Regions from separate parts of the Homo sapiens genome. Here region 1 is linked to region 2. Evidence: fine-mapped expression QTL. A gene starts in region 2. The other region holds a variant in brackets. All regions are shown on one strand. Distances are from middle to middle.

What was found.
Region 1: its variant is fine-mapped to the expression of RBM48 in whole blood (TOPMed, PIP above 0.99). The same link has a PIP of 0.9 or more in cerebellar hemisphere.

What each region holds. Positions count from the first base shown.
Region 1 is chr7:92,584,032-92,587,061 of GRCh38, forward strand. The region is part of intron 1 of FAM133B (family with sequence similarity 133 member B); the gene reads right to left. Among named protein-coding and RNA genes, the nearest start is that of FAM133B, 4.8 kb to the right of the region's middle. The variant T/A (reference allele first, on the strand shown) is at 1,496.
Region 2 is chr7:92,527,702-92,530,201 of GRCh38, forward strand. RBM48 (RNA binding motif protein 48) reads left to right here and starts at 1,094. Exons shown (of 5, transcript NM_032120.4): 1 at 1,094-1,223; 2 at 1,775-1,965. The coding sequence starts at 1,113. It overlaps PEX1 (peroxisomal biogenesis factor 1), which reads right to left and starts at 819. Exons shown (of 24, transcript NM_000466.3): 1 at 606-819. The coding sequence starts at 734. RefSeq lists enhancers at 238-417, 1,018-1,397 and a silencer at 648-877.

The DNA of each region.
Region 1 (3,030 bases), 57 kb after region 2:
AGAGCAAGACTGTCTCAAAAAAAAAAAAAAAAAAAAAAAAAAGAAAGGGTCTTGCTCTTTTGCCCAGGCTGGAGTACAGTGGTCAGTGGTGTGATCATATCTCACTGCAACTTTGAAAAATCCCCCTACCTCAGCCTCCTGAGTAGCTAGGACAACAGGTGTGAGCCACCGTGCCCAGTCAATAGACATTTATGAAACTCTTCTACTTTTTAAATAAAAAGAATTTTGATTGAAAATGACTACCCTCAAGGTTGGTTTAAGGTGTTATACCTTGTAATAATCCAAAATAAGTGAAAGGAAAAAATATATTTGTTGCATTTTAACAAAATCTATGAAAATGACCATCATTTCCCACCTTTATAACAGATAAAAGTTATATACTTCCAGATTTCTCTGTCAGAGTAAACAATATAAAACCAGCATAAACAACACATACTGAGAACTATTACCATTCAACTGACAAAACCTAATTACTTGGAATGAAAAAGATAAATCTTTGACATACTTCTCTACAAGCAGGAACAAATGCTAGAGCCCCTCATGTAAGGAATGTTTACAGAATCAGGGCAAGATGTGGACATCATATGCAATGTTAAAGACAGAGGCATATTGTTATATTTTTTGTATAAACTGTTATACCCTCAAATATTTCATTCAACTGCTTTTGCTAAGCATTTCGATTAGTTGGTGTGGAAGTATGACAAACAATGAAGGCAGAAATGAAGACAATGAAGGCAAGTACCATGTGCAGCTTAGTTCACCGTTTGTAAAACAGGAGTATTATTTGTACTGTTCAACACAGTTAAGTTGGGCTCAAAGCGTCCTCCTACTTGGGTAATAAAATTTGGCCCAAAAAGCCAGGTGCACTGGCTCACACCTGTAATCTAGCACTTTGGGAGGGTGAGGTGGGAGGAGCTTGAGCTCAGGAGAGACCAATCTTGTCTCTACTAAACAAAACAAAACAAAACAAAACAAAACAAAAACCCTCTGTATATGGTGAACTGCAACCTGGCTTGATGTGCAAACAAGTTCTAACCTAATCAAAGAGTATATCCTCTTAACCAATCAACTGAGTCTCAGCCAATCACAGGAGCCCAACCCTCAACCAATCCCAAACAGAAGGCTGCCAAATTATGCCCAAATAAGGCAAACTCAGAACTGCACCAATCAGGTAATCTCTGTATGTCATTTCCTATTGCAAATATAGGTCACCAGGATGTAGAACATCTTCCTCAAGTTCTAGAATCTTTTTCTTGCTCAAATTACCTTTGTTAAATTTAACTGGTCTCAGGTTTTTGTTTTTGTTTTCAACAATATTGATCACATTCTAATTTCCTTGGTATCATGTCATAATTTTGGCAGTACCTAATGGCAAAATATTTCAGGTTAGAATTGTAAAAACTGTTTATTTCCAAAGAGTGCAAATATACACATATCAAGGATATTCAGGTCTAAATTACTAAAACAGCAAACACTGAAAACACCCAAATAGCTA[T/A]CAAACTGGGATTCGCTAAATATATTAAAGTACACACCCTGTTAAATATTACGTAGCTACTAAAATGAATGAAGTAGATCCATAGTTCCTGATAAGAAAATGTTTAAGATTTCTCAAGTGAAAAGCAAAGGCAAGTTGCCAAAATGAAAGAATTATTTTAATAAATAACTAAAAATTTAAAAATCAGAAAAATTAGACTGCATGTGCACCAAAATATAAAGGAAAACATCCATATTCATTCACACACTGGAGAAAAAAATTTTAAATAATGATTACCTTTATAAAACAAAAAATGTAACTGCGTAAACATTATTATAGTAATAAAGGTAAAGAAAATGACAAAAATCCAACCACAATACTGCCACTCCAACTCAGAGAGCTGAACTGTCCTTATGTAAAAATTCACAGATAATGCAGTGGCAATTTTTCATTCTAATGAAAAAAATTATAACATTTACCATGTTTTACAGTCTTCAAGTTATCTAGCATGTATCTTTAAAGTACATTAATATTTTTACATCTTACTGTGTACTATCAAACTGCTTTCATAAAGTACATACCAACCTATTCCTACTTTTCAGAGGAAAATGCTAGTAAAGTAGTATATTCACATGCTAGGACTACGGGTACAATTACATGAACTACTGCTGAATAAGGCTTACTTTTAAGCTTTTGACCACAAACACTATCTCAGTCTGCTTAAGTACACTCCAAATATCTCCATTGTTTATTTCAATTATAATAGCAATATTTTTTAAAGTGCATCTTATGTTCTAGGCTCCATGCAAAACACTTGATAGTCTGCTCTTATTCATTAAGCAACAATACTTTTCTTTAAAACTATGCACAACAGAAAGCTTTTAAAACAAGCAACTATTTTCACAAAGGTACAGGAGTTTTCATTTTTGTATCAGTGTGAAAAATAATGCTTCTAACATTAAGTGGGTGGCATGGTTAAGCATTCACTAAAATATAGAGATTGTGCAATTTCTTGAAACATTTCACTATGACTTAATCATTATAAACACTGTGACCTTGTAAATCAAACATTCACATCCATATGTAACTAGAATTCTCTGTGGCTTCAAACTGCTGCATGAGTTCAGATAACAGAAAATGATTTGTTTCTGAAACTCAGGATGGCAAATTGGTCTCAAGGGGATATGTATGGGGGCAGGTACAAAAAGAGCAATGCAGTAAAACTGGCTAAAGACACAATGTGCAGAATTTCATTTGTCAATTTGATTACCTATTTTTATCTAGAGGATACATCTATTTTAGAGGTCCCAAAGTAGCAGAAAAGAACATGAAGAACACTTCGGAAAATAACAAGCACAAAAGGTGGCCATCATGAACTTAAGAGCCCTTTACAAGTCCTGAATTAAAACGTTCAGTTATAAAAACTGTACAAGAATGCATACCAAGAGTGACCCCTAATGCAAACTACTGACTCTGGGTGATGATAATGTGTCGATGTAGGTTCATGAAATGTAACAAATGTACCACCCTGCTGGTGCTGGCGAATGTTGATAATG
Region 2 (2,500 bases):
TTAGAACTGTGAAACATCCTAACCACAACGTCCAGAAGGGCGACTGATCGCAGAGCTTCAAGTGATCTTAACTACGTTATGTGTTCCTAACACACTACAGCTGTGTTCCGCGTCAGCGACGCAGGGCAGAACCATCATTGTATTAACCTTTCCCGCTCATGGGACGCGGTGCTTAGTCCCCGGGAACCGACAGGGGCTCCGCCAACAACTCTGCGTCCCGCTCTCGCGGCCCGGACGGCAGCAGCGCAGGTTAACTGGAAATGGCTGGCAAGGAAAACACCTTTTAAAATAATAAAAACAAACCACTTCTCAGGAGCTTTTCCAGCCTGGAATAAGGAATATTTATAAAAACAGTGGTAGAATATTAGGACGTTTCTAGGTTCAGTTTCACCAAGTGAAAAGACCTGGGATAAGACGAGCCCAGGGCTGCACTGGACTTGTGGGATCCAGAGACTACCCAGAAGGGCCCTGCCGTCGAGGGACCCTGATCTCTGCGCGCTTCGGCGGCGCCCGGGTGGCAGCCGGTGTCCCGCCGCGTCCCTGAGAGGCTTCGGCCTCGTCCGACCCCAGGCTGAAGATCAGGTGGCTCGGGGCCGGCAGGTTACCTGCAGCAGATGCAGCTGGGCCACGAGACGCCGCGGCAGGTGGAGGAAGCAGTCGCGAGCGTTGGTGAAGGCCACAGTCACTGCCGCCCCGCCTCCCCCAGCACCCGCCAGGCGATCGCTGCCCCACATCGTCCCGGAGCGTCGCTCTGGGTTCGCCCACCCTAGCGCCGCAAAGGACCCGGGACCCGGCAGGCCGAGGACGTCGGAGCCGGAGGAGATCGATCGGCCCCGCCCCCTGCGGCCCCGCCCCCTCTCCCCGCTGCGCATCCTGCCGTAAGCCTGTAGTGGGTGGGACAAGAAAGCTTCTGTCACCCACCGCGCCTCTCCGCCGAGCCGCTCGGGGGCGGCACCTCGTTCATCAAATCTTCGCACGCAGGAAACGATGGCCGACGCTGTCGATTCTCCAGCCAATCCTGGCACTCCTTAACTCATCCCGCTCTCTTATTGGATAAAAGGGAGCTCAGTAGGGCGGATGTTGTCCTCCCTGCGAGGATCAAAGTAGGCAAGATGGCGTCGAGCGGCGGGGAGCTAGGGAGTTTATTTGATCACCACGTCCAGAGGGCGGTATGCGACACACGGGCCAAATATCGAGAGGGACGACGGCCTCGTGCTGTGAAGGTAAAGTGATTTTGGTTTCATTCGCTCTCCTCGGTAGCTTTATGTGAGTGCTAGCGCCATATGACCAGCCTACGGAAATAAAGGCACGACAAGGCTTCCGTCAGATCTGTCTCTCGTTAGAGCTGGCGTGAAGAACCCTCGGTCAGTTACCAAAGATTCTCACGACGCCTTTGGTCAAGTATTAGAACATCAACTCCACGAGAATAGGCCTTGGTTTTAGTCATTGGATCTTCTGTGTTTACAGTACTACTTGGCACAGGTAAGCACTCAGTGAATATTCGTTGAGTGATTGTTCCCAGTGACTTCTACCGACTCAATTTCTGGAAAAAAATGTCGACTGAAGGTAGTCTGTTATATGCCTTAGGTAGCCTCTCACATGGACTGTTATTCTTTATGCAGAAGGAATGGCAGAAATTTCATTTTGTGTTCTTTTGCTGACTGGGTTGAACAGATTATTTCTTGTTTTCAAAGTTCTCTTTAAAAAAAAATAGAGGCAGATTCGTCCTAGGCTTATTTGCGAAATACGTTTAATAACTCTGCATTTCTTTCAGGTATATACAATCAATTTGGAATCTCAGTACTTATTAATACAAGGAGTTCCTGCTGTGGGAGTCATGAAGGAATTAGTTGAGCGATTCGCTTTATATGGTGCAATTGAACAGTACAATGCTCTAGATGAATACCCAGCAGAAGACTTTACTGAAGTTTATCTTATTAAATTTATGAACTTACAAAGTGCAAGGTAATGTGCAAGTTAAGAAATGACTCATTTCCTCATTTCTTCCATTCATATTTCTGTCATTTTGGCCCCAAGTTTCCCTCATTCATAACTGAATTACCCCAAAACGTAATCTAGCATATCTTCCTCCAGCCTTTTTAAAAGTTAACTTTACTGAAACACTGTATCCATCACATCATTCCCATGCTTAACAATTTAATGTCCTGTAGCTTGGTAGAGTAGAAGTTGGGTTTGGCCAGGCACGGTGGCTCACGCCTGCAATCCCAGCACTCTGGGAGACCGAGGTGGGCGGATCACGAGGTCAGGAGTTTGAGACCAGCCTGGCCAACATGGTGAAACCCCCCTCTCTACTAAAAATACAAAATTAGCTGGGTCTAGTGGCGCAGGCCTGTAATCCCAGCTACTCGGGAGGCTGAGGCAGGAGAATCGCTTGAAACCGGGAGGCAGAGGTTGCAGTGAGCCGAGATTGCGCCATTGCACTCCAGACAGGGCAACAAGAGGGAAGCTCTGCCTCAAAAAAAAAAAAAAAAAAAAAATT